Linked DNA regions of Homo sapiens: all the other regions are reported to be linked to region 1. Evidence: microRNA targets listed by miRTarBase, many of them from high-throughput screens and not tested one by one. Region 1 holds a microRNA gene; each other region holds the end of a gene's coding sequence.
The links. Region 1 holds the annotated microRNA hsa-miR-23a-3p (AUCACAUUGCCAGGGAUUUCC, at 2,904-2,924, shown strand). A microRNA usually pairs through its seed, bases 2 to 8, with sites in the 3' UTR of a target mRNA and lowers its output. Matches are read on the target gene's strand: a 7mer-m8 pairs with bases 2 to 8, a 7mer-A1 pairs with bases 2 to 7 and ends in A, and an 8mer does both.

Region 1 (4,079 bases):
GGGGTGTCCTGATGCAGCCTGGGGCCTGCTTTGCTCCCCAGCCCAGGGGCCCGCCCTCTCCCTCATGCCTCCAGCTGCTAGGAGCTTGGTTTCCCCCTGGACACCATCTCCCAAGAGCCTGAGAAGTGCACCATGATTGGTAAAGGGGACCCTGTCTCCTGGGCACCTGCATGGCAGCACCCCTTCCACTCAAGACCCAGACCTTTTGTGCCTGCGGGGATGGGGAGTGGCCTTGGCCCCGGCCCTGGGCTCTGTGCAGGGGAAACCCCACAGGAAACGAGCCTGGCCAAATGGCCGCCCTTCCCGTTCTCGTCCCTGGGACACGAATGTGCTGTCTCACTTCCGGAGGCGGCCCAGGGAGGCTGGCCGCCCTGCGGGGCCTCGCCTGCTCCCAGTTGGCGCCTCCAGACCCTAAGGGGACAGGGCTGGGCTGGGGCCTGATGGGAAAGAGTGGCTGGTATGTGTGTATGTGTGTATAGGGAGGGGACAAAACAGGACATCACTCGCCGCCTGTCTCGAAGTGGTGAGCGCCACCACATCGGGCGGACACTGGGGTCCTGGTGTGAGACACCCACGTTTCCGTTATCCTTTGCCTTGGCAAAGACAGCAGCAGCTCTGTCGTGATCATGTTTATCACTCATGGGGTCCTCACCATGACTTATGAAGTCCATACTTATTATCCCTGTTTTGCAGATGGGGAAGCTGAGGCCCAGAGAGGTTGAGTGACTTGCCCAGAGTCACCCAGCTCAGAAGCTGCAGAGCTGGGGCTTTCAAATCTGGGCAGACTTGGGCTCCAAAACTGGAGTCTGCTAGCCAGGTGTTGGGCTCTTATCAAAAGAAGCTCCACTCACTAAAGACTTAGGGCTGGCTTCATGCATTTGTGAAACGGGCAGTCTCACGGCAGCCCTGCTTGGAGGGACCTGGAGGTTAGTTTAATGTTGCACTGCTGGGGTCATGAATTTTTTTTTATTATTATTAATTTTTTTGTCTTGTATTGCCCAGGCTGGTCTCGAACTCCTGGCCCCAAGCGATCTTCCTGTCTTGGCCTCCCGAAGTGCCGGGATTATAGGGATGAGCCACCGCGCTCAGCCTGAAATTATTTTCTTTTTTTAAACTTGTTTTTGTTTATTTTAGAGATAGGGTCTTGCTCTGTCACTTAGGCTGGAGTTCAGTGGCATGGTCATAGATCACGGCAGCCTCAAACTCCTGGGCTCAAGCAGTCCTCCCACCTCAGCCGCCTGAGTAGCTGGGGCTACAGATGTGTACCACCACTCCTGGCTGATTTTTTAGTGAATTTTTTGTGGGCCAGACACTGTGGCTCAGGCCTGTAAGCCCAGCACTTTGGGAGGCTGAGGCAGGCGGATTGCTTGAGCCCAGGAGTTGGAGACCAGTCTGGGCAACATGGCAAAACCCCATCTCTACAAAAATTAGGGCCAGGTGTGGTGGCTCACGCCTGTAATCCCAGCACTTTGGAAAGCCGAGGTGGGCGGATCACCTGAGGTCAGGAGGTCGAGACCAGCCTGGCCAACATGGTGAAACCCCGTCTCTACTAAAAATACAAAACTTAACTGGGCGTGGTGGCGGGCACCTGTAATCCCAGCTACTCGGGAGGCTGAAGCAGGAGAATTGCTTGAACTCTGGAGGTGGAGGTTGCAGTGAACCGAGATCACGCCATTGCACTCCAGCCTGGGCGACAGGGCGAGACTCTGTCTCAAAAAAAAAAAAAAAGAAAAGAAAAAGAAAAAATTAGCCGGGCATGGTGGTGCATAGCTGTAGTCCCAGCTACCCCGGAGGCTAAGGTGGGAGGATCACTTGAACCTGGGAGGCTGAGGCTGCAGTGAGCTGTGATTGCACCCCTGCACTCTAGCCGTGGCGACAGAGTGAGACCCTGTCTCAAAAAAGAAAAAATATTTTTTTTTTTTGTAGAGATGGGGTATTGTCGTATTGCGCAGGCTGGTCTTGAACTCCTGGCCTCAGGTGACTCTCCTGCCTCGGCCTCCCAAAGTGCTGGGATTACAGGCGTGAGCCGCCATGCTTGGCCTGAAATTCTTAGTTTTCGAACTAGAGGACCACGTGTTCATTTTGCACCGGGTCCTGAAAATCCTGTATCTTGCCCTGGTGCTGGGCACTTACTGAGTGACATACATACTCGGTGACATCTCACTGGGCTATGCAAAAGAGGCTCTTGGCTCCATTTTACAGATGGGGAAACTGAAGCTTTGGAGAGTCTTTGGGAAACTGTGGAGCAAGGATTTGAACCTTGGGCTGTTTGGGTGGAGAGGCCTGTATCTTGGAGCTTGGATCCTGTGCTCTGGGGGGCGGGGGGTGCGTGTCTAGAAAGAGAGGGGGGTGCCTTGCTGCCGGCATCCGCCCTGGTGGGTGTGGGCTAAGCCCTGGCCACTGAGGAGACCGGGCCACGGGGGGGGAGGCCCTGGTGGTTTCCTCCTGCCCTCCAGGCTTCTAGGAAGTGGCGCCAGCTGGGGTGAGATCACTTCCTCACCCGCCTGCCTGGCCCCCCTTGGCTTCCTCTCCCCATGGCCCCATTTGGCCTGCCCAGGGCTCAATGAGGGGGGAGCTTGGCCATGCAAGTTGCTGTAGCCTCCTTGTCCCGCATGGGCCCTCTAGGTATCTCTGCCTCTCCAGTCCTGGGGCTGGAACGGAGGGCACAGCTAGGCTCCAGCTCCCCGTGTGGTGGCTCCTGCATATGAGAAAAGAGCTTCCCTGTGATCAAAGGAAGCATCTGGGGACCTGGAGGGGAGGTGTCCCCAAATCTCATTACCTCCTTTGCTCTCTCTCTCTTTCTCCCCTCCAGGTGCCAGCCTCTGGCCCCGCCCGGTGCCCCCCTCACCCCTGTGCCACGGCCGGCTGGGGTTCCTGGGGATGGGATTTGCTTCCTGTCACAAATCACATTGCCAGGGATTTCCAACCGACCCTGAGCTCTGCCACCGAGGATGCTGCCCGGGGACGGGGTGGCAGAGAGGCCCCGAAGCCTGTGCCTGGCCTGAGGAGCAGGGCTTAGCTGCTTGTGAGCAGGGTCCACACCAAGTCGTGTTCACAGTGGCTAAGTTCCGCCCCCCAGGCCCTCACCTCCTCTGGCCTTGCCGCCTGTCCCCTGCTGCCGCCTGTCTGCCTGCCATCCTGCTGCCTGGCCTCCCTGGGCTCTGCCTCCCGTGCCTACTGAGCTGAAACACAGTTGGTTTGTGTACACTGGCTCAGTTCAGCAGGAACAGGGGTCAAGCCCCCTTGGAGCCTGCAGCCCCTGCCTTCCCTGGGTGGGCTGATGCTTGGAGCAGAGATGAGGACTCAGAATCAGACCTGTGTCTGGAGGAGGGATGTGGTGGGTGGGGTTGGCTGGGCCCAAATGTGTGCTGCAGGCCCTGATCCCCAACTCTGCAACTGGGGACCCCTGCATGGCCACAGCTCAGGCTGGGCTGTGGTGCCAGCATAGATAGGTGGGTGAGTGGGTGGCCCTTCCATTAAAAGGGAAGCCAGCTGTGTCCTTTCCGGGCCTGGAGGCTTGGCCCCTCCTCTCCCAAGCCTGGCAGGGGCACTGGCCCGGCCCGCACCTTCCTAGCAGCCAGTTACCCAAGAGGAAGCTGCCTTGGGCCTCCAGACCGTTAAATGCCAACTCCTGGCTTCCGGTATCAGGCTGGGTTGACCTGACCTGGCCCCTTCTTGCTGGGCCCTGCAGCTTTCTAACTTGCCGGGAGGAGCAGTGACACCCGCCCCACATGTGGGGCATGGAACAAGTTCCTTGTGGACCCAGAAGGGACACAAGCAGGTGTGCTTAGTCCTGAGGCGCTGGGAATAGCTGATCCTCCCTGCCTTGAGGGGGTTCTCAGGGCAGGGAAGAGTTAGGACTCTGTTTTTTTTTTTTTGTTTTTTTTTTTTTGAGATGGAGTCTCGCACTGTCACCCGGGCTGGAGTGCAATGGCTCGATCTCGGCTCACTGCAACCTCCACCTCCCCAGTTCACACGATTCTCCTGCCTCAGCCTCCCAAGTAGCTGGGATTACAGGTGCACACCACCGCACCTGGCTAATTTTTGTATTTTTAGTAGAGACCGAGTTTCGCCATGTT
Region 2 (4,079 bases), not on the chromosome of region 1:
TTACCAGGCTTCCAACCTGCCCTCGCTGGAGCTGCTCATCTGGCGATGCCTCTTCCACCTCCCTATTGCCCTGCTACTTAAACTGCGTGGCGACCCCCTTCTGGGAACTCCTGACATCCGAAGCCGGGCCTTCTTCTGTGCCCTGCTCAACATCCTCAGCATTGGATGTGCCTACAGTGCGGTTCAGGTGGTGCCCGCTGGCAACGCTGCCACTGTTCGCAAAGGTTCTTCCACCGTCTGCTCCGCCGTCCTCACTCTCTGCCTTGAGAGCCAGGGTCTCAGTGGCTACGACTGGTGTGGACTGTTGGGCTGCATCCTAGGACTAATCATCATTGTGGGACCTGGACTCTGGACACTACAGGAGGGGACCACGGGTGTCTACACCGCCCTGGGCTATGTGGAGGCTTTCCTGGGAGGCCTGGCGCTGTCCCTGAGGCTTCTGGTCTATCGTTCTCTGCACTTTCCCCCCTGCCTCCCAACAGTGGCCTTCCTATCTGGCTTGGTGGGGCTGCTGGGCTCTGTGCCAGGCCTCTTTGTGCTGCAGGCCCCCGTGTTGCCCAGTGACCTCCTGAGTTGGAGTTGTGTGGGGGCAGTGGGGATCCTCGCCTTGGTCTCCTTCACATGTGTGGGCTATGCGGTCACCAAGGCCCACCCTGCCCTGGTGTGCGCTGTCCTACATTCCGAGGTGGTTGTGGCCCTTATACTGCAGTATTATATGCTCCATGAGACTGTGGCACCTTCTGACATCGTGGCGGCAGGGGTTGTGCTGGGCAGCATTGCCATCATTACAGCCCAGAACCTCAGCTGTGAGAGGACAGGGAGGGTGGAGGAGTGAGATAGAACTTGGGAGCCCGGGGGTTGGGAGGGACAGGGATAAATAAAGGCAAAGACTGAAGACAAACATGGGAGGAGAAGTGACTGGAAAAGAACTGGTGTGGGAGAGGGATACCTCTCAGAGTCAAGGGTGACTTGGGGACTTGGTGGAGAGGGACTACGTGGAAGACCTGGGGCCAGCCTGGGACCAAGGGATGTGGAGTCCAGGCTGGGTCCTAGAATCAGGGCATAACTAAGGGGTAAAGTCTGAGGAGCAGATCCAAAGGGCTGAGGCAGGGAGGCCGTGGGCCATGGGGAGGACTTCACTCAGCAGCAAAGAGAAGAGCATTGGGGCTGGAGTGTTCCGGCAAAGACAGAGCCAGCAGCTGCGCTGGGGGAGGGAAGCGTGCCTCCCCACCCCTCCCCTCACGGGGAAGGTTTCCTTTCCTCGTGCTTGTGCCCCCCGCTTGGGGTGGTGACGTGACATTGACATCAAACAAGGATTACAGTGAATGTGAAAAAAAAAAAAAAAGATACCTGAATAGACATTTCTATGACATTTTAAAAGCCATGAATTTATTTTGGCACAAATATTTTATCATATGCAGTCACTTCTTTGTAAATGATTTTTTGTAAAGTCATTGGATATAAAAGAGTGATTTTCCTCACCTGAGTACATGAAAAGAAAATGCTGAAATCAATGTATAAATCAAATCATCTGTACTAGCACTGTTAATCTAGAAGAAAGTGGTTGCATAGAGAAGAGTAAGAATGTAGACCAGCTTATTGAAGTAGGAAAAGAAAAAAAAAAGGAGCTTCAGAGGTAGGCTTTGCCTCTTAAAAAAATTAAAAACATAAGTCACTGTGTTGTGCTTGGGAGTTAGCAGCAAAAAAAAAAAAAAAAAATGAAGTCACTGTCTGTGAAAGGAAAAGAAAAAATGAAAAGAGTTTGCATCCATTGAAGTATGCAGAAAAAGAAAACAAGTTTTAAAATAAAATAAAATGAGTATAGTTGGGGGCTTAGCAATGGACATACAGAGTGGAGTAATAGACACCGGAGGCTCCAAAAGGTGGGCAGATGGGTGGGGGATGAGGGATGAAATCCTACCTATTGGGTACAATGTTCACTATTCTGATGATGAGGATGCTATGCAATATGCTTTACCACTACGCAATGTATCCATGCAACAAAACTGCACTTGTACTCCTAAATCCATAAAAATTTAAAATTGTCTTGGCTGAGACCTCTTTTAAAAAATAATAAAATAAAAAAATTAGAGAGAATAGTAAGAGCAGAGCAAGGACATTTAGTCTATAGTTTCAAATGGACTTAATCATTTGAAACAATAAAGTTTTTCATTGAATCTTCATAGAGTATTAAAAAAAAAGCTGCTCATTGGCAGAATTTCCCACTGAGTTAGTATAGATTACATGCTCTTTGATAAAAGCAGCAAATAAAGTTACTTGGTTTTTTTTCTCTTTAGTGTTTGCTTTAAGAGAAAAATCCTAAACTCCTTCAGAGGAAGGAAAAAAGAGACAGAGAGTGAGAAATCCTTAAAACTGTAGGGACTTCCAATGCCAGGAAACCATGAAATATGAGAGTATATTTAGCAATCATGGTGATTTAGCTCATGGTAATTGGCATATGTATAATTATAATTTGCATTCCAGTTATTTAAACTGAGATATTCCTGATCAGGTTTAACACACTTGGGGAAAGATCTCTTTCCCCAAGAAATAAGATGGAGAGAGTCTTTGGAGAGTGGCCTAACTGAACTGGTAAGTCAGCTTCCTCCGGATTTTGGTAATTTCCTCACTTCTTCCATAATTTCTCAGTGCCCTGGCCATTTTCTGATAAGTCATGGTCTTCCAACGGCCTTTTCTTTTCCGCCAAAGCTCGGCAAGTTTTCCTTTGTTTTTTGATACAAACGGAAAGATGCCTTTGATTTTATCTACCCACTGAATACAAGGTGCCATCTCCGGATTACACAGGGATTCGTGAAGGTATTCAAACAGTCTAAGCTTCTTCCTGCCTTTTCCCCACTTTTGCTGGAGAATAGTGGGTTGTACCAGCTGGTTTTCAGTTATGTTCTGCAGAGACTGATGAATGTTTCCTTCAAAATAGAAGTCCGCAGCACTGTTGATTACCGTTCTCCAATTACAGAGAGGTTCCTCTGTAGGCAACACTCCATAGCAGCTGGAATTTCCTTTGACGTGAGGACAATAATTGATTAAAGCCAGGTAATTTTTGTAATCTGGCGAGTACTAAAGATCTCCAGTTGAATGTTGCCTCAGTGCCTCAAAAGCATCCTCAAATGCTTGACCCAGCTTGTCTTGTTCAACACACGTCATGTTTCATTAATAAATTGACAATTTTGTTCCTTGGCAATTGTTGCAGGAAGACACTTCAACCCTTTATAGAGATATTTCATTAATATCAGAATTGTAAATTCAATGGTAGGCTGTCATGAAAATAAAAAATTATTTTCCAGCATGATGGTTCTGCCCATCAGTGTCCAATGCAGCATCCACTTGCATATGGTGGAAATAGCCTTCCCCTCCCCTGAAACACATGTCTGCCTCCCGCTTGGCTAACCTGTAACCTGCCATTGTAACAGCTGTCACGTTTGGCCAATTTTATGATTTTCATTGCCTTTTCTTGCCTTTTTGTACTAGCTACGCTCTTCGGTACAAAGTTGAATACAATTGGTAATAGCAAGTACTGTTATCTCATTCTTAATCTCGGGATAATTAAATATCACAGTGGCTATAGATTTTATACAGATAAACTTTATCACATTAAGGAAGCTTCTTTCTATTTTTAGTTTACTGAAGAGTTTTATCATGAATTGTTACTGAATTTTATCAAAAACTTTTCTTACGTCTATTGAGATAGTCATTATTTTATTCTTTATTCTGTTGATGTAGTACATTATATTGGTTGATAGTCTCATATTAACCAACTTATTGTTCTTAGAATAAACATAACTTGATTAATGTGTTATCTTTTTATATATTGGTGGATTTGGGGTGCTAGTATTTAGTAAAGGATTTTGTACCTATAGTCATAAAAGATACTGGTCTACAATTTTCCTATATGTCTTTGTTAAGTTTTGCTATCAAGCTATCCTCATAAAAAGAGCTGAAAGTGTCCTTTCTTTTATCTTCTTTGGAAGGGTTTGCATAAGACTGGTACTGTTTTGGCCAGACGCGGTGGCACACACCTGTAATCCCAACGCTTTGCGAGGCTGAGGTGAGAGGATTAT
Region 3 (4,079 bases), not on the chromosome of region 1:
CGCTGCTGGGTTTTGTAACAATAAAGGTCTTATTGTTTAAGCTACCAAAAAAAGAAAAAGAAAAAAGAAAGAAAGAAAGAAAGAAAGAAAAAAAACAGGAGGCACCTAAAATAGTATCTGGGGGAAGGGAATTATGAAAGATTTCACTGAAGTGCTGCCCTAAGAAAACGAAGACTTTAAGGACAAATAAAAATTAGCAGAACATGAGATTGGAGAAAGCGAGAGGGCAGGAAATGAAGTATTCCAAGAGTCTAAGAATGTGCAAAAGACAAGTGAATGATGTGTTTAGGAAATTGCAAGTAGTTCATTATGTCTGGGGTGTAGAGTACAAAGGGGTTCTTCTGTTTATGCTCAGGTGACAGGAACTAGTTTCTCTACCACCCACAAGGGTCCTTAAACACACAAGGAATTCTCAGAATCCAGGCCAGAAAGAGGGCATTCAAGGGAGGAATTTCCTCCTTTTCCAGTCAATGGCAGCCTTCTCAGCTTGGTTTTCCAGGCTCAGGAACCCCATCTTTGGTGGTTAATGCCAATAAAATCCTCTTCCTTAGGGAAAAACACTATCCTCTTATACCACAAAATTTTACTACATGATCTTGATAAGGACAAAATAGCAGAATAATGCATTATCTTTACGTATTTAATGTAACTGCTTGTTTACACTGCCAAAAGAAAGGCTACTTTCCATAAACTTGAGATCATAGGGAAACTGGATATTATACTTTTAGCTTAGGCGTTAACTAATGGTACAAAGTATGTAAACCCCTATCACTTCTAAATGGCAGTTCACTGAATGAAAATCAGTTTACTTCCAATTTTTGTTTTGAGGATTAGAGGTTTAGAAAACATCTTTAAATATTAAAAAGTCATTAAAACAAGGGAAGCAAATTAAGTTTCAAATTAAGTTACTGTGGTTTTCCTGGGCCACTGTTGTCAGCCAGTTACAATGTGCTCCATTTCTCTAGACCCTAGCTCCTATTCTGAAGCTGGTATCTTACTTAAATTTTCCTTTCTAGGCCAGGCTCCGCGGCTCATGCCTGTAATCCCAGCACTTTGGGAGGCCAAGGCAGGTGGATCACCTGAGGTCAGGAGTTCAAGACCAGCCTGGCCAACATGGTGAAACTCCGTCTCTACTAAAAATACAAAAAATTAGCCGGGCATGGTGGTGTGAACCTGTAATCCCAGCTACTCGGGAGGCTGAGGCAGAAGAATCACTTGAACATGGGAGGCGGAGGTTGCAGTGAGCCGAGATTGCGCCACTGCACTCCAGCCTGGGCAAGAGTGAGATTGTCTCAAAAATAAAAAAAATAAAAAATAAAAAAAATAAAAAATAAATTTTCCCTTCTAAAAGGATCACAGTAACATGAATAGCAAATAGAACATTTTAGGCAGCAATTATCTAAAACGTGGATGCTCTTGAGCATGCATTCTCAATGGGGGTGAAAATTGGTTCATTGGGGACAAAAAAAAATTCTATTTTGTATAAAGCAAAAAACATTTACAGTCCATAAACAGATACATAGTATATATCTGGTGTTGAAATATCATGGGGAAGGGGTGACTAAGAAAAAAATCTAAAAAAGTTCTTCAGGGAGGTGATAAAGAAAAGGTTAAGAAGCCAGGTGTAGTGACTTATGCCTGTAATCCCAGCTACTTAGGAGGCTTAGGCAGGAGGACTGCTTGAGGCCAAGAGTTCAAAAACAGCCTGGGCAATATAGCGAGATCCCATGTCTACTTAAAAAAAAAAAAAAGAAAAGCTGCTGTGGAGATTCTTTTGCTAAGTCAGGAATATCTAACTTAACTGTATTTTTAAAAACCCTAAGTGCCGAGATAAAATGGAAAGTTACGGCTATTCCACTTCTAACCAATGTACTTGCAAATGGCTCCAGTTCTTTGATTTTTGTTTCTCCTAGCCAGAGTTGCTACAATTGTTCAAGGAAAATACTTGGATTTCTTTTTTTAAAGATGATAAATCATTAAGTTTATAACACATAGAGAGTATAAACCAAGAAAGTAAATTTATTTAAATTACTAAAATAGCTTTTAAAGTCATTTACAGATCAGCTGCTATAATTATTTTTCCTGAAAGACATAGGTAACATATTACTTTTAAATTACTTGGGTCAATGAAACATTTAATAAAAACATTTGTTTCTCTATATAATACGTATGTATAAAATAAGCCTTTTCAAAAACTCTGGTTTTCATAATCCTCTATAAATCAGATGATCTGACTTCTAAGAGGAACAAATTACAGTAAGGGGTATACATTTATGAATACTGGTAGTACTAGAGGAAAGACGTTAAACCACTCTACTACCACTTGTGGAACTCTCAAAGGGTAAATGACAAAGCCAATGACTGACTCTAAAAACAATATTTACATTTAATGGTTTGTAGACAATAAAAAAACAAGGTGGATAGATCTAGAATTGTAACATTTTAAGAAAACCATAGCATTTGACAGATGAGAAAGCTCAATTATAGATGCAAAGTTATAACTAAACTACTATAGTAGTAAAGAAATACATTTCACACCCTTCATATAAATTCACTATCTTGGCTTGAGGCACTCCATAAAATGTATCACGTGCATAGTAAATCTTTATATTTGCTATGGCGTTGCACTAGAGGACTTGGACTGCAACAAGTGGATGCGCGGAAAATGAAATCTTCTTCAATAGCCCAGGACAGCTGGTTAACAAATGGTTTGTCAATTCCTGAAACTCATTTCTTAATTCAAAACAAAAGCTTCAGGGTGTGTCCAAAATAAACTGTTACGAATTGACCTACTTTTTTTTTTTTGAGACGGAGTTTCATTTTTGTTGCCCAGACTGGAGGGCAATAAGCATGGTCTCGGCTTACTGCAACCTCCGCCTCCCGGGTTCAAGCAATTCTCCTGCCTCAGCCTCCCAAGTAGCTGGGATTTCAGGCATGCACCACCACGCCCAGCTAATTTTTGTATTTTTAGTAGAGACGGGGTTTCACCATGTTGGCCAGGCTGGTCTTGAACTTCTGACCTCAGGTGATCCACCTGCCTTGGCCTGACCTACTCTTAAGACTCAAGTGAACAAATATATTAAATTTTGCAATATACATGAAGAATCCTTGGGACAGCCAAGAATTTTTCTTCAAGGAAGGAAAAAGGAGATGTAAAAAACAAATCCCAACGGAATCCACCAAGATTAACAGTTCATATACCTATGTTTGACTAAACTACATCTCAGTGGATTACTGTAACATTTCCTCCCTTCAGCTTCCCCATTAATTTTCCTTCCTTGCCTTGTTCTTTCCATTTTCCAAAAAACAAAAGAAAAAAATTCCAAACACACACCTAGATGACCTTTCATTACTTATGTTCCTATAGGCAGAAGCTAAGGAACTCACACCTAAATGGTATAAAAGGGAACATAATGGGAAAATCCCTGGTTACATTTAGGGAGCAATCTTACTAATAACTCAGGAAACTTAGTGAGAAATCTAAGTTAAAAAATCAGGAAGGTTCATAAGAAAGGACACAAATCCCTCTCACTGGTCATACCATAACTGTAATAACTCAGCCCAGAATCAAAACAGATTCTCTAAGGAACTGCATATAATCTGCACTCCTAAGATACCTTTAACAGAGCTCTCAATGGAAACTGAAATGATTCTCTCATATCACAGATAATTAGGTTGAATGAATGATTTATATGTTCCATGTTTATGTAAGCACTTAACTTCTTTAAAAAGAAACTAGTTCTTTCAAAAAGAGCTCTGAATTCTGTCTCTGGTTAGAAAGTGTGAACAATTCTCAGAACTTGGGACATGATTTTTCTTCTCTCTCACTTCTTATAAGCAGATGCCCCTTTTCAGGGCATTTTCAGGTTGCACAGGCAGAACTAAGTGAGAAATACGGCTCCAGAGGCCATTCAGTTTGTCTGGGTCCATATGATTGTAGGAGTTGGGTGTGTTAGAATTGGTGAACTTGACTTTAAGAAAATCTCTTACTTTTTCTTCAACTTCCTTTAGGCCTAGACTTGTTCCAAGTGTCTCTTCCTCCAATAAGACAGTCAGGACTAAGGCTACATCTTTGAAGG
Region 4 (4,068 bases), not on the chromosome of region 1:
TGCTTCTTTTGTGGTTTACTTTGCCCTTCTTTTTCTAATTTCTTAAGGCTGAAGTTTAGCTTATTAATTTGAAACCTTCTTTAAATGCAGGCATTTAAAGCTATAAAGTTCTATCTCAACACAGCTCCACTGCATCCCATATGCTATTGTATATCAACTTTTTCTTTCCATTCACCCCCAAGTATTTTCTAATTTCCCTGTGATTTCATCTTTGATCCACTGGTTACTTAGGAGTACATTGTTTAACTTCCACCTATTAGTAAATTATACCACTTTCCTTCTATTGATTTATAGTTTCATTCCATTGTGGTAAGAGAACACATTTTGTATGATTTCAGTATTTTTAAGTTTATTGAGATGTTTTGTGGTCTGAAATTTTGCAAAGAATGTTTCATGTGCACTTGAGAAAAATATGCATTCTGCTGTTCAGTGGAGTGTTCTGTATATATGTCTGTTAAATCCAATTGGTCTACAGAGTGGTTCAAGTTCCTTACTGATCTTCTGTCATGGTGTCCTAGCCATTGGAAGTGGGGTACTGAAATCTACAATGATTACTGTTGAATTGTCTATTTCTCTCCACTTAAATTTTGCTTTATGTATTTTGGGGCTCTGTTAGAAATATGTGTGTACACGTATATACACACGTATATAATTGGTACGTATTCTTGATGGGTTGAGTGTTTTATTGTATGTTGTTTCTGGCAAAAAATAATTTTCTTGAAGTCTATTTTGTTGGATATTATTCATATAACCACTCTAGCTCTCTTTCGGTTATTGTTTGCATGGAGTATCTTTTTCCATCCTTTTACTTTCAATCTACTTGTGTGTCTGAATCTAAAGTAACTCTTATGTAGACATAAAGGGACTGAATTTTCAAATCTGTTCTGCCAATCTAATTTAAATATCATCTTTCTTTGAGACACCTTCAAAAAGCCCCAGCGCACTCAATGTGTACTTTAAAAATCACTGATGTAGGCTGCGCGCAGTGGCTCACGCCTGTAATCCCAGCACTTTGGGAGGCTGAAGTGAGAGGATCACTTGAGGTCAGGTGTTTGAGACCAACCTGGCCAACATGATGAAAATGCCATCTCTACTAAAAATAGAAAATTAGCCAGGCATGGTGGCATGTGCTTGTAATCCCAGCTACTCGGGAGGCTGAGGAAGGAAAATCGCTTGAACCCAGGAAGTGGAGGCTGAAGTGAGCCAAGATCATGCCACTGCACTCCAGTCTGGGCAATAGAGAGAGACTAAGTCTAAAAAAATAAAAAAATTCACTGATGTAATACATGCTGGAAATTATTTATGAAAGAACCCAATATTCTTTCAGAATTTTGTCAGTAACTTACCATGTGACCTAGAACCAGTTTCTTTTTCTATTAAAGATGAAAACTGTTACCACACATGATGCCATCATAGTAAGTATTTTTAAAAGTGAGACTCAGAGTTGGCGTAACACCCACAGTATTAGTATGACATGAACTGTGGAGATATATCAGTAGCAATGGCACCAACTCACCTGTAGTGAGTTGACTACAGGTGAGTTGCAAAACCAAAAAACCCACCATCACTAACACGAACAAACAAAAAAACAGAATTTACTAGGCATGTCCATGTTTTATTTTCTTTAGGTGTTTTTCTGGAAAATTACATTTTCAAGGAATCAGCCCTTACAAACAGAGCTAATCTTTCAAAAAATAAAACCCAGTATCTAGATTCTCAAAACTTACAAAACCAACTGGAAATGTCTGGTTGTCATGCTCAATTCAGTTTCACATCACAAGTAATCATCTATAACTATTTCAGTAGGCAAATTCCAATTCTAAATATTACTAACGATTACCATTGTTATTCTCAACTGTGTTGACAATTGTCTTATTGCTGAATTGTTCATAATACATCTTCTTTGGCAACTTTATTAACACCATGGGACAACTAAAGGTCTGGATTAACTTAGTATTTCAAAACTTCATTATAATTATTTAAAAGTAAATGCTAGACTTAAATTATTTAAATTTAAATGCTAGATTTAAATTATTTAATTTTAATAAAATTTAAATTTAAATGCTAGAATAGGAAAGCCTCCAAACATGCCTAATATAACAAAAACAAAAATTGCTAAATAATCACTACTAAAAGCATTTCCATTGTATGTACAAGTATATAACTCAACTTTACCAACAAAAATATTATAATTTAGCTCCAATTCTCTATCAGACCTACTGTGATTAAAAAAAAACAAAAAATAAATGGAGAAAGCAACATCTGGGCACCTGTCAAATTTTTATGGAAGGTTGTTTTATATAAATTTTAAATGGCTTAAAATCAGCCAGAATGCGAATTTTTCACTATAATACTTTATAAACTTGTACTTTCTTTTTTCTTTCTTTCTTTTTTTGAGATGGAGTCTTGCTCTGTTACCCAGGCTGGAGTGCAGTGGCGCAATCTCGGCTCACTGCAACCTCTGCCTCCCAGGTTCAAGCGAGTCTCCTGCCTCAGCCTCCCAAGTAGCTGGGATTACAGGCACATACCACCATATCCAGCTAATTTTTGTATTTCTAGTAGAGACGAGGTTTCGCCACGTTGGTCAGGCTGGTCTTGATCTCTTGACCTCGTGATCTGCCTACCTCGGCCTCCCAAAGTGCTGGGATTACAGGCGTGAGCCACCACGCCCAGCCTAAACTTGTACTTAAATTATATATTGATAGCTTATTCATTTTTAATTCTTGTTCCATGGAATAAGCCTATTTTTGAGGCTTGGCACGATATTAACAAGAAATTTAAACAGGACGCTCATGTCCAGAAGTTTAACTAAAAAATCTTTTCTATATATAATATAACTACCAACTTAAATTACAAATTGCTTCCACTAAAAATTATCACTCCAAACTTCAGAAAAAGTAAATTAAAATAGGTTATGGCAAAAGGTACACTCTGAAGCATGTTCACATTACAAAGATAAATGATAAAGGTTAACCAGCAAAAATTCAAAAAGGCATATATGCAAACATCTGTATGCAAACTTTCATGAATAAGATATAAGAAATGATTCATTTGGCTAATTTTATGTACAGCTTGTATACAATTTAAAACAAGTACAACTGAATATGTTTCTATGTAAAAGCCACAATAAAGTTAAATGAAATACTAAATAAGTCTTACAAATTGGTCTCTTAGGAGTTCTCAAAAGAATTAGTAACTGAGTAACGTTAGATTCTAAGAAATGCCCTCTTCTTGATCTATCATTTCTGTTTTAACTGAAAACACATCTGCCAACATATGTTTTGGAATTTCTGACCCTCTGACTTTCAAGGCATAACAAGCATTCTCCACTTTGGCCAAACTTTGTTTCAAGGTATACAGCTTCTTAGAAACCTCGTAAGGTCCAGTGTTGCCAATGAATGAAAACCCATCATAAACCTGACGTAAAAACTGGCTCACTTCAAAGGGGGTATCAATGTCCCCATTCCCCACACTGTTAATACACATCCGCATCAATTCTCCAGTTAAGTCAGCCACTCCCAGAAGGTAATCGACAGGTGTGACTCTCAGTCTCCAAGTACCAAACTGCTTATCCTGTGCATCAGAGGAGGGCTGGTAAAAAAACAAAACAAAACAAAAACACACACACACACACACAAGAAAGAACACTGTGAAAAAGAGTGAATATAGCATGTATCACATTTATTATAGAAGTACAAAATCAATAGCAAATCAGTCATACTAATTTTTTCTAAATAAAATAAATCTGTTTTGCTTAATAACCACTTGGGATGTTACAGGAGGAATGTGTGCCCTGGGTAGTGAAATGAACCAGATGACTTCAAGATACTTTTGAAATATATCATTATGAAACCAACTATTTCCAACTCCACTTGATGTACAAAATAAAAATATTCTTGAACAAGGCTTAATAACTTTATTGCACGACAATTACTTTCTTAAATGAAAAACCATACAGCCCTCCAAGTTTGTGATCCATTAATGTTTTCCTAAGAAGCTCAGTCTTTTTCTGGCTTCTTGTCTTTCCCTATTCAGCACTCACCATCACAATTTATTATTCTCTCACTG
Region 5 (4,000 bases), not on the chromosome of region 1:
ATGCCAGGCACTATCCTGAGTACTTCAAGTGTCTAATCTATCCTCTCAACACCTCCATAAATTATATATGCAAAGCGTAAAATATTTACTCCCTGGAAAAACGTTTGCCAATCCCTGGTTTAGATCCTTGAAAATTTAGAACATCTTATAATTATATAGCACTTTACAATATACAAAGCACCTTGGCATACATCATCACATTTAATCTTTGTTTTGTAGGGGGATAGGCATTCATGCATTGTAAAGGAGAAAGCTAAAACTCAAGAGTTTAAGTAACTTGCTTCATCAAGGCCACAGAGTCATACCCAGGTTCTGACTCCAAACTGCATGCTCTTTACATGAAACTCCTCTGTCTCCCCTAAATTACTGCTAGGAAAAGACTTGGAAACTGGAAAGAACTTGTGAATACTGAAAGCAAGTCAGACCGTCTTCTGTTACAAATGTCATTCCAGGTGCATTCATGTAATTAGAGTCATCAAGTACTAAAAATACTAAATTTGTAATAAATTTGAGGGAAAAGCCTTAAAGGAGGACATGACAATCATAGGAAAGGCATTTTGAAATACATACAGTGCACCGATATGCATTTTTCTTAAGGTATGTTAGAGCTGAACCTACTCAATTTAATATATGCAAAATAAAATGAGCAATTGCCACATTCATCTCGCTCTCTGATGAGATTAGTGTTAAATTGTTCCACATTAACAATGTGTATGTGAATAAAAATGCAATGGCTGGGCACGGCGGCTCACACCTGTAATCCCAGCTCTCTGAGAGGCCGAGGCAGGTGGATCACAAGGTCAGGAGTTCAAGACCAGCCTGCCCAACATGGTGAAACGCAGTCTCTACTAAAAATACAAAAAATTGGCCAGGCGTGGTGGCAGGCGCCTGTAGTCTCAGCTGCTCGGGAGGCTGAGGCAGGAGAATCGCTTGAACCTGGGAGGCGGAGGTTGCAGTGAGCCAAGATCACGCCACTGCAGTCCAGCTGGGGCTACAGTGCAAGACTCCGTCTCAAAAAAAAAAAAATGCAATTATACCTTCCTCATGCTAATTATTCCATAAATAATATGGTTAGTTCTAAATGGACTTAATACTAAAAAAAAATTGGTAAAATAATAGATACCAATTTATAGAGCTTTACCAAAACGAACCAAAAAAATATTTTCAAAGAAAGCCTAGGTGCTTCTTCCTAGTTTGCAAGTCAAGCTTAATCTAAATGGTGATTTAGATTATCCTTTTAATTTATTCTACAACATACCTTAAGATATAATTTTAGACCTATAAATAGATATGAGGACATCCTGAAATCACTGCAAGCAAAGAAGGAAGATATAAAATCATCAATTGGGTGCCTGCTATTTTAGGTACTTTCACTTACTTCCTAAAGTGCTCAAAATGAGCTTGTGAAGTATTTTCGCCAGTCATTTTATAGATGAGGACGCTGAGGCTCAGGACTACTACTAATTTACCCAATGTCACATAGCTGGAATTCAAATCTAAACTAGGTTACCTTCAAAACCTGAACTCTTTCCCACTGCCCCATGTGGAATCCCGGTAACACCAAGATCACTGACTGTTATCTCATAAAAACTCATTTTAAGAACTGAACTTTTATCTTTATTCGGTGGCTGGCACTTTGTAATTGTAATTCTGCCCACACTTTAATACTTTAATGAGGACATTTTCTCCACAGCTTTTCATTTGTCCTCTCAAGAAAGTGAATTGAAGCACCTAGATTTAAGTGAGCTTTTCAAGTATGTCTGCAAAAACATGTACAGAGAGGTAAAACTTGCTTTATGATTCAGAGAACTGCACTAATCAAATGCAAAATGACTATTTACAGCAGAACTCTGTATAAAACTAGTTAATCTTGACCCTACCCACAATAATTAGTCACTGAGGGTCCTTATTCTAATAAGTGGAGGAGAAAACTCCCATTATTTCAGGCTTTAAGTCAACTAGCTTTCTAATATTGATTTATGGTATCATTAAGACTGTCACAGTAATCAAACAGGTTCTGCCAATTGTTTTATCAGTCACCATTTACTTTTTGGAAGTGATAGATTGTAAGAGCCCTAAAGAGAAGGACTTTGCCTTGTATAATTCTCTATCTTCCCTAGGGCCCCAAGCTCAGTGTCTGGCAGAGTAGGCATGTAGTGGCACCTGCTGAATATGCTGCTTACTCAGTAACTTGTCAAGTCAATGCATGTATGTTCAAGATTGGTTCCATAGCACAGTCTCAAGGGCACTAGAAATGTGAGGATATGCTATACCACTGCATTGACTGTGAGGGGAACCTGCTGGCACCAGGGAGAAGCGCAGATTTAGCCTTTAACAAGAGACAGAGTAAGTTAATAGTAGGCACTAATGTAGTTCTGAGGATCTAAACATTTAACTAAAAACTGTCAGAGATAAACAAAAACTGCCAACAACAGATATCATGAAACTTTTTTTCCTTTTGCATGATTCCATAATGTAGTGCAATACCTTTCACTGTTCTGCAGAGGGTAATGCCAGCACTCCTGCAGGACTGGCATTGCAGTTTAAATTTCAGGTCCAGTAAAGACATGAAATAAATAATTGTGTGGAAGTGACACTATGGCTTCCTTCTCTTCTGTCTGTAAACACAGACTGGTTTTCTGGGAAGAGGGAAAAAGGTTGCTTCTGCTTTATTTTCACATCTGTAATTTTAATATGATTTAAAAAATCCAGGTTATAGAAAAACATAAAGACAGAAGAAACAAATTAGGAGATGACTATTCACATTGTAAAGGGATAAATTCTCCATAGGGTTTCATTAAATACTGAACTCCCCTAAGTCAATGAATTTGGGACTTGATTTAAATGCAGCTTTTCAGGAATACATTTCTTATGTAAAGTGAGGTACACGCATGTATTCATCTTAAGTTTCCTCCAAGGACAATCCAGCACTTTGCTTCCATTCACAGGACAGGGGAACAGATAGTACTTGTGAAAGAAGTCAGCGGCCCCTCTTGGACTGCCCTCCTCACCTTTCTCAGGAGCCAAGGCTGTGAGGAATCCAAACAACAAAGTCCCACCTGCAGCCACAGTCCTTCCACTCTCCACCAACAAGGCTCCTTCTACAACCACAAATTTGCTTCACCTTGGTCCAGAAAAACGTGAATCGGGAACAGTTGTGTATGAGATTTGGAAGCTGCACGGGCCACAAATATGGCCTGTGGCAGATGGGGAAATTCAGGAAACCGCCTCAACGGCTTCTTGCCGCTAAGCTATTTCATTTCTGCACTGGTTACAAGGTGAGGAAGAACCCCCTCCTTCACCCCTAAACAATGATGCCCATCAGCAGCAAAGGGAGCCCAATTGCTAGCTGTGCAAAAAATATGGAAACCGGGCCCCCATCTCTGTGCTGAGTAATATTAATTGGTAAATCGTTTTTTTCCCATAGAGCAAAAATGGGTGTTTGAAGAACTTACTCCCATGATGCGGCAGTCAAGGAGATGCACAGTAGAGGATCAAAAAGCTGACAACTTGGCCTCCCCTGGGTCGCTTCCAGGGGAGCGCGGCTTCACCGCTCGAACCAGCTGGCCAAGTTCCGTATGCTCTTGGGCCGGTCCCCAGCCCTCTGTACAGCCTGGCACACCCGGCACCAAGGCTCGTCCCAGAAGGAGGTGATGTGGACAGCGTAGCTCCGGCGCCAGTGGAAGTAGCGGCGATAGACCGCGGGGTTGCGGTCGAGGAAAAGCAGGTACGAGGCCAGGGAGGAGGCACTTGGGAAGTCGTCCACGTGGATGAAGGCGCCGCGGGGCACAAAGCGCTCGTAGTTGGCACGGTCTGGGCCCAGCACCACCGGCACCGCCCCAGCGAGCAACGCGTTGCGCCAGAGCTTCTCGGTGATATAATCCAGGTGCTGCGAGTTCTCGAAAGCCAGGTAGAACTTGTAGCGGGCCACTGTGTGCAGGAGCCCAATTTCGGGCACCGGCTGCCCCGGCCCGCCCCGGCCGAACACGTCCACGGTCAC
Region 6 (4,079 bases), not on the chromosome of region 1:
TCTATGCACAGTCCATCAAACTTCACTGGTTTTGGTTAATGTACATACAAAGTAATCACATTTTTACTGCCATATCACAAACACTCAAATATTTGCTGTATGGATTAGCCAATGAATGGAGACTCATCTTTTAAAAACAAATTACGTTTTTAAAAAAATAATTATTTTAAAATATAATCAATTTCTTAAGCCTGGAATCACATATTTTACAGTAAGAAGTCTACACTTCCCTCTTTAAATAAATATTCTTTGAAATAATCATTTTCCATATACTTTTCCAATTGTTTCCATAAGAAACAATAAAATTACATAAACAATTATAATTTTATGGACAAAGTATATAGATAAAAATCATTCTACATAAGTTATGAAATAGCATATCTTAGCCTAATTAAAAGATTCCATTACATTTACTTTTATCATTTATACTGCCAAGGATCAGTCACAAAAAATTCAAATTATACATATTATTCATGCTTTAATTTCATAAATAAGTAAATTAAAGCAAGCCAATATGTCTCTCTTCATAACATAGGGAAAAATTACTGTTTGCATAACAGAGTAAATAGGCAAAGTCTAGCCATACAGCAGCAGTTCACGATTTGTCAAGATGATACAGATACCATCAATGAAACCCATGTATAGACAGGCATGTCCTTAATACTTTCAGTTAGTTTACGTACACCTGGAACATTCAAAGAATTGCTGTATATTAAATTTCTGTGTGCATTAGTTATTAATGCTTGGTATCTACATATTTACCAAAATTTAAAGACATAATGACATGGTCAGCCATGAGAGTCAAAATGAATTGTAAAAAAATTCTTTTTCTAAAGTGCTTAAGGCAGCTCCTTCATTTCGATATCCAGCTTAATAAAACTCGTTGGGAATTCAGTTGCTAAAAGAGAATGCCATACTAAATGCATGTTTTTAGAAAACAACTGTTTTATACCTGTGACATATCCATTATAGTCAACCTCTCAAGCATTTCTTTTATAGAAAGCAATCATGTTTGACCTGTAGAAACAAAAACTAAATAAGCAACAAAAGATGTTTCAAAGGATTTAATACTTTTTACAATGTATTAAATTGTAATCAAGAGCTCAATATTTTTAAATTCAAATGTAATTGAGAATATTATATAGTATAATCAAGTTAATAGTTACCTTATTTTGAGACTAAATAGGCACTATATTTGATTAGTTTTCAGTTTGAAAATGAGGATGACAAACTTTCTCCAGTTTAACTTAACAACAAATAAACTAAAAACGTCTTAAACAAAAAACCACATCTTGTTCTTTAATTTTAGAGACCTTTAAGAACGCCAGTAAGAAGAAATCCTCAGACTCTTATTTTGAAGTAATAATTGAAAATTTAGTATCAAATAATACATGTGATGAGAATTTGGACTGGATTTACTGAACTTACACTATTATTACAAAACCTCTCAGAGATGAAACCTCTCCAGTGGAGAGGTTTTCCAAATGAATATTAGAAAATTTTATGTGAAGAGTTTCAAATGACAACATGAACACAAGAATCATGTATACTCCTCCAGCCCCTGATTAATATATGCATTTCCCCATGCCCCTGCAACAGAGGGCCCTCACCACTACAACAATGCTCTGTAGCTTAAACATCAGTTGACACTGCATGGGGCATGGACCAAGAGTATGCTTAGAGGAAAAAGGCACTGAATTAATGAGAAGAAAGAATTATATAAGACACACTAGTAAAAAATTTTATACAACAGCATCTGACCTTTTCTGTGTCATATTTGTTAAAATTCACTTAAAGCAACTCAACTACTAAAAATTTCTGCTTTCAGGTTTGAGTCTATGAAAGGAATTATAAATTCCCATTCATTTAGATCCTGGAATAGGCCCTCTATAGGGAACAGAACATCTGAAAATTTCTTTCAAACTCTCTCTGAGGAACAAAAACCAAAATTATATTTCTTTGGAGAATCAAAAGAGTATCTATTGGTTTACTTCATTCTCTAAACTGCCTTGCAGTCTTTAAAATTACCAACATGTCATCAGATAATAGTGCAGATATGAATGTCCTCTAGAAAAACAATATTCCAATTCAAATAAAATTCCTCATTTACATTTGTTTTATCAAGGAAACAAAACATCCTATCAGTGGGCAGTAAATTTTTAGAGAGAATGAGCTACTATTAATACTATTATACAAGTCTCTATGTAGAAAGCAACGCAAATGTAGGCAGTAATGGTCACTCCTTGGAAGAAGGTTGGTTATCATAGCACAATATATTTTAAATGAGAATGAAAAAAAGTCAACAAATGTAAAGTTTCAAAAATGAAGAAAAATACAAATTCAGACCTCTTAAAAATGCCCAAAGAATTATTAAATACTGTAATTTTAATTTAGTTTAGCTCAAAGGATGTGAGTTACAAATTATAATTGACTTTTTAAGAACAGTTATGTTCCACATAACCATGGGTTTTACCCCAAGTTTGGGAAAGATATCTATGTCAATTTTTGTAATAATTAACATTTCTTTGAAAAGAAAGTGAATGTAGCAAAAGGACTGAGAGAAAACAAACCTCTGAATGAATGGCTGCTTGAAAAAGTCATGTGCCAATTAAGTCAAAGATACGCAGATTTTTTTCAAAACAATTGCTTAAAGCATTCCATATGTTATGAAAAAGAATATATACATTATTTGAGTATTTAGGTACCTCCCTTTATAACCTATCCTTCTTAGATAAAAATTGAGTGATATACATTTTTCAATCCTCTATGTAACTTTAATAAACTTTGATTCCTATAAGAGATGCTAAAAATCAGCATAATTATTATCAGTGTCACATTCAAGTGGGAATTTTACCAAACACAACTATTAAAGGTAGGATTAAACTAGACAACAAAATCAAAAAATATAAGGCTTTCAAAAATCTTACCCATCACCTAAAGTGATGGAATGAAAAGAACTGTAGTTAAACAAGGCAACATATAAAGAATACCCCCCTTGCCATTGTTAGTGCAGTAGGTAAAGAACTGAAATTTGGGTGATTTTAAGCTGTTGTGTCTAGAAATTTCTTATCACAATATTTTGGAAAAAAGAAAATTATATACAATCTAGTCAATAAACAAAAGAGGAAAATTTTGTAAAACTTATTTATAAAAGAGGAAAAATAAACCATTTGAAAACCTTTTTACCATTCCCAACATATGATTTCAATTTTTAGAAAACCTTGGATGACTATGTATTTTTAAAGCTTCTGTGTTAGAACTAAATAATAGATAGTAATGAGATTTTAAAAAGACAAAGTACAGAAGAAAGAAGGCAAGATTTAAAAGCTTTTCTCCCCAGGCCTTAGGGTTACCATATGTAATTAAACATTAGAATAGTCAAAGTAATCCAAGAAATACAAAAATGAGTTTTTATGTTAATTAAACACTGCCTTTTCCCCCATTTACTCTTCAATCATCAGTTTTTTGCTTGGTATCTGCTTGCTTCTATGATACTGCACAGTAGGTTCCTGCAAATGCTTCGTACTAGGTGTTTAATGATAAAAGATTCCAGGCCTCAAAGCAGAACACAGCAAACCTGATTTTCACTACTACCAAATTCCTGTGATTAGTAACTGCACAGAAAAGGCCACCTAATCAAGACGGAGGGTAAACGTATTCTGAGTAGACACTATTGAGTAACAACATTGTTCAGGCTGCTAGCTGAACCAGTCATTCCATTTTCACTTTTCTGAAGTGTTCTCACAGCACTTGGAACCTGCATCCCAGTACTCAAAGAAAGTCCACCACACCATACCTAAGAAAAGACAAAAAAACCTGTCAGATTGCAAATCAAACTAGAATTTCAGTGATTTTTAAATTTCCATTTCAAAGGCAAAATGCCACACATATGAACATCAATCATTCTCAAACACATTAACTGTCATATTTCAGCTGAGGGGAAATGGAAAGACTAAATCAGAATTATTTTAGAACCACAGAGGCCAGAGGAGGTCTTGGTGGTAGCAGAACCAACTGAAGCTGCACCCAAGAGAAGGAACTCAGGGGTGCAGAAATTGAGAAACTTCATTGGCTTAATC
Region 7 (4,071 bases), not on the chromosome of region 1:
AGGCAGGAGAATCGCTTGAACCCAGGAAGTGGAGGTTGCAGTGAGCCAAGATCATGCCGTTGCACTCCAGCATGAGCAATAAGAGTGAAACTCTGTCCCCGCCACACACACAAAAAGATATGCCCAAGACTGGGTAATTTACAAAAGAAAGAGGTTTAATTCGACTCACAGTTCCATGTGGTTGGGGAGGCCTCACTGTCATGGTGGAAGGTGAAAGACAAGTCTTAAATCGCAGCAGGCAAGAAAGAGAATGAGAATCAAGTGAAACGGGTTTCCCCTTATCAAACCGTCAGATCTCATGAGACTTATTCACTACCACCAGAAGAGTATAGGAAAAACTACCCCTATGATTCAGTTATCTCCCACTGGGTCCCTCCCACAACACGTGGGAATTATGGGAGTACAATTCAAGATGAGATTTGGGTGGGGACACAGAGCCAGACCATATTAGCAGGGAATGGTGTAGAATCCTACGAAGTTTGAGAATTGCTACTTTAAAATGGATAAAATTTATAAAAAAATCAGCTGTGTTGGATTTCAGAAGCTATGCTGATCTGAATTTTTCTCTTGTTATTGATAAATTAATGGTTTTTCACTCTTACAGATCCTTCATGGATTTAAAAATCAAGTTGGCGATGAAAATTGGAGGCGTTTCTCTGACCAGTTTCCTCTTCCCTTAAAAGAGCGTCTTGCAGCTTTTTATGGTGTTTAATCTAATACACTTAAGCTGCAGTCCCAAAATTAGGGGTAAGTTATAAGAAGTTTGGAAATTTTCAGGATGAAGAAAATTTTGTTAGGGCTGTCATTTCAAACTACTAAATAGAATAAAAAGCTATTTGTTTTCTATAGAGGTTGAATAAAACATAGCCTCATATCATTCTATCTTGGGCTTTAAATTTAAAATTACTTAAGTGGGCCAGGTGTGGTGGCTCATGTCTGTAATCCCAGCACTTGGGGAGGCCAAGGTGGGCAGGTCATTTGAGGTCAGGAGTTTGAAACCAGCCTGGCCAACATGGTGAAAACCCATCTCTACTAAAAATACAAAAATTAGCCACGTGTGGTGGGACGTGCTTTTGTAGTCCCTGCTACTCAGGAGGCTGAGGTGGGAATATTGTTTGAACCTGGGAGATGGGGGTTGCAGTGAGCCAAGATCTTGCCAGTGCACTCCAGCCTAGGGGACAGAGCAAGACTCCATCTCAAATAAATAGAAAATAAAATTACTCAAGTGAAGGCTAAAGAAATTTTCTTAATAGAACCAACAAGCCCAGAAAAACGATTAGCTCCAGTTTGAATCGTAGGTATAAAGAAATCCACGTTGGTACACTGGTTGGATTTCTCAACATTGCTTCAACTATTCCTTTTTTCTTTCTTTTTTCCTGCAAGAAGACATCGGCACTCATAGTGATGGGGTAAAATTGATTTCATTTTGGAGCATGAATTTATAGTCTCTGCTGTAACAAGGACTTTTCATTTCACGTGCTTTGAAAGAAAACTCAGTTGGGTTTTGGCCCACTGTTTTTGTTTTTCACTGTATGTTTCACTGAGTACCTACCATGTGCCCATCACTTTTTTTTTTCTTTTTTTTTTTTTTTTTTTTTTTTTTTTTTTTTTTTTTGAGACAGAGACTCTTTCGCCCAGGCTGGAGTGCAGTGGCGCAATCTGAGTTCACTGTAATCTCCGCCTCTTGGGTTCAAGCAATTCTCCTGCCCGAGCCTCCCAAGTAGCTGGCATTACAGGCACATGCCACCATGCCTGGCTAATTTTTGTATTTTTAGTAGAGATGGGGTTTCACCATGTTGGCCGGGCTGGTCTCGAACTCCTGACCTTGTGATGCACCCACCTCGGCCTCCCAAAGTGCTGGGATTTACAGGCGTAAGCCACTGAGCCCAGTGCCTAGGACTATATTTTAAAATAAGCAATGAAAGATTCTGTTTTAATTTGGGATGGACTATATTCATTTGGACTCTTGCTCCTTGAGCTCTTCTGTACTTAAATGGGACTAGCAGTTCTCATCTCTGAGCTTCGGTTTTGTCATTGAGTTATGTTGAGGATTAAATACTATACTGTATGTGATGCCAGAACTTAGTATGTTGCCTGGCACACTAAGTTGACTCAGTAAAGGTTAGGAACTGGGCCAGTACAATAAATATCAGGGTTTTGACATTCATCTTTAGATTTTCAACATGAATTAAGACATATCTGACTGGAAGCCAGAAGATGTGCTGAATGAGCATGTACAGAAGATGTACACCAAGTTGAATTACACTTTAGATTGAATTGGAGGAGTTTTTTTGGCTTGCTTGCTTGCTTGTTTACTCCAAGCTAAAATTTAAATCTGGAAAGATTTCACCATCCAAGCTGTCTAACCTAGAAGGTAGTAGAAATGGACTCAAAGCTTCCAGAATGTGTCAGAGCCCTTCATATGTGTTGTCCTACTTCAGTCTTGAGTCCTCAAGAGCTGTTTTCCAAAATGGCTTTGGCATTTTGGAAAAGTGCTGGATTCACCTTATGTTAAATTATGAGAATGCAAAAGATGAGAATGACTTGTAGCTTCAAAGCTTCAATGAGCTACTAACAAGTCTTGAGCACTTTCAGATTTATTACCTCTGTGGTCTCATCACCAATCATGAATTAACTGTTCTAAGACAAGGTATGAAATAGTTCTCGGTTTTGTAATTAGAGCTAAAAGTAGATCAGTATCTTTTATTCCTGCCTTTTTGTACTCCTCTTCCTTTTCTTCAGAGGCAGGAGAAAAGGGATTGCTTATATTTCTACACAGATGGATTAACTGCCCTCTGTGAATTCACATGAACGTTCATAAATGGCCAAAACTTGGCATGATTGGGTAGTAGAGTTCTGTTTGTAAAAGGACCACTATCAGGTAACAGTTTAAATCTCCCAGTAATCTTACCTTATTTCTTAATATCCTTTTTATCATTAAAACTGTTTAGCATAGAAAAAAGTTCCTACCAGAAAAACCAAGTGACTGGAAGATAGTGGAAATGACCAAGTGAAATAGGATCAGAATGGGAACTAATTAGGAACATCAAGAAGGCAAGTGTAGGCAGGGTGTGATGGCCCACATCTATAATCCTAGCATTTTGGGAGGCTGAGGTGGGAGCATTGCTTGAGCCCAGGAGTTTGAGACCTGCCTGGGCAACATGATGAGATCTCCATCTCTATGAAAAAAATTAAAAAGAAAAAAATGAGCTGGGCATGGTGGTATGTACCTATGGTCCCAGCTACTCAGGAGACTGGGCAGGAGGATTGCTTGAGCCCAGGAGGTTGGGGCTTCAGTGAGCCATATTCACACCACTGCGTTCCAGCCTGGGTGACAGAGCAAGGTGCTATCTCCAAAATAAATAAATAAATGTTAAATTTGCTTTTTTCTCTCTCTCTTTTTTTATGTAGAATTTGTTTGTTGATACTTACTGAATGTAGTGACCCTGCTGTGGTAATGAACACTTCTAGTGCCTTCTAGGCTTAAAATACCAGACAACCCCAAATAACAAATGCTCTTTTGTGTTTTGATAGGTTGGATTTCTGTTTGCTTAATATTGGGAATACTGGGGGAAAAAAAGATGGTGTTTTCATTCTAAGGATTGTCCTAAAGAAAGTGCTACTTTATTTTTAAGAAAGTAAGGCCACTTGTTATATAAGAAATAACAAGTTCCCATTGGGTCCCATTTTGCAAAAGGGGATAAAGAATTAGACTGATAGCATCATACGAGGCATATTTCACTATACAAAGTGTTGTACACCTGTCTATACAACTCTCCTACCCAGCTTGACCTCACTTTTCATACCTGATGCAGCAAACAATTCAGTGCCATAGGAGAAGGAAGCAGCATGGTTATAAGTGACTAACACGATATTAGGCAATTTGTCCAAATTTCTCATTTTCTTTATAGGTAAAGATAGCATTCTTATTTGATTAATTTTTTGTTCCACTGGCTTTGAAAGACAAACGATTGTTAAAGATAAAATTGTTTTTGTTCTTTTTCTTATAGGTCCTTCAGTCTTGGAGACTATAAGGGAGCCTCTGCACCCAGGGAAAATGTTACCCTTTAC

Region 2: the mRNA of SLC35G3 is a reported target of hsa-miR-23a-3p. Seed matches in the 3' UTR shown: 8mer at 1,325-1,332.
Region 3: miRTarBase lists TOR1AIP1 as a target of hsa-miR-23a-3p. The part of its 3' UTR that is shown has no 7-base or 8-base seed match.
Region 4: the mRNA of TSNAX is a reported target of hsa-miR-23a-3p. Seed matches in the 3' UTR shown: 8mer at 2,942-2,949 and 7mer-A1 at 1,769-1,775.
Region 5: miRTarBase lists FUT4 as a target of hsa-miR-23a-3p. Seed matches in the 3' UTR shown: 8mer at 2,760-2,767, 7mer-A1 at 2,675-2,681 and 7mer-m8 at 196-202.
Region 6: miRTarBase lists FSD1L as a target of hsa-miR-23a-3p. Seed matches in the 3' UTR shown: 7mer-m8 at 2,832-2,838 and 7mer-m8 at 56-62.
Region 7: the mRNA of TNPO1 is a reported target of hsa-miR-23a-3p. The part of its 3' UTR that is shown has no 7-base or 8-base seed match.

What each region holds. Positions count from the first base shown.
Region 1 is chr19:13,835,440-13,839,518 of GRCh38, reverse strand. It overlaps MIR23A (microRNA 23a), which reads left to right and starts at 2,860; the gene lies at 2,860-2,932. It overlaps MIR23AHG (miR-23a/27a/24-2 cluster host gene), which reads left to right. Exons shown (of 1, transcript NR_036515.2): 1 at 1-4,079. MIR24-2 (microRNA 24-2) reads left to right here and starts at 3,160; the gene lies at 3,160-3,232. MIR27A (microRNA 27a) reads left to right here and starts at 3,002; the gene lies at 3,002-3,079. RefSeq lists enhancers at 248-347, 568-787, 818-927.
Region 2 is chr17:35,190,047-35,194,125 of GRCh38, reverse strand. It overlaps SLC35G3 (solute carrier family 35 member G3), which reads left to right. Exons shown (of 1, transcript NM_152462.2): 1 at 1-1,606. The coding sequence ends at 835. It also overlaps the pseudogene SPICP2. Among named protein-coding and RNA genes, the nearest start is that of SLC35G3, 2.3 kb to the left of the region's middle.
Region 3 is chr1:179,917,992-179,922,070 of GRCh38, reverse strand. TOR1AIP1 (torsin 1A interacting protein 1) reads right to left here. Exons shown (of 10, transcript NM_015602.4): 10 at 1,995-4,079. The coding sequence ends at 3,832. Among named protein-coding and RNA genes, the nearest start is that of CEP350, 35 kb to the left of the region's middle.
Region 4 is chr1:231,564,051-231,568,118 of GRCh38, reverse strand. TSNAX (translin associated factor X) reads right to left here. Exons shown (of 6, transcript NM_005999.3): 6 at 1,595-3,591. The coding sequence ends at 3,214. The region is part of intron 4 of TSNAX-DISC1 (TSNAX-DISC1 readthrough (NMD candidate)); the gene reads right to left. Among named protein-coding and RNA genes, the nearest start is that of TSNAX, 37 kb to the right of the region's middle.
Region 5 is chr11:94,545,274-94,549,273 of GRCh38, reverse strand. It overlaps FUT4 (fucosyltransferase 4), which reads right to left. Exons shown (of 1, transcript NM_002033.4): 1 at 1-4,000. The coding sequence ends at 3,548. It overlaps PIWIL4-AS1 (PIWIL4 antisense RNA 1), which reads left to right. Exons shown (of 5, transcript NR_135093.1): 5 at 3,428-3,942. Among named protein-coding and RNA genes, the nearest start is that of FUT4, 3.4 kb to the right of the region's middle. RefSeq lists an enhancer at 3,102-3,776.
Region 6 is chr9:105,546,075-105,550,153 of GRCh38, reverse strand. FSD1L (fibronectin type III and SPRY domain containing 1 like) reads right to left here. Exons shown (of 14, transcript NM_001145313.3): 14 at 1-3,796. The coding sequence ends at 3,671. Among named protein-coding and RNA genes, the nearest start is that of FKTN, 10 kb to the left of the region's middle.
Region 7 is chr5:72,904,699-72,908,769 of GRCh38, forward strand. TNPO1 (transportin 1) reads left to right here. Exons shown (of 25, transcript NM_002270.4): 24 at 605-747; 25 at 4,011-4,071. The coding sequence ends at 712. Among named protein-coding and RNA genes, the nearest start is that of MIR4804, 28 kb to the left of the region's middle.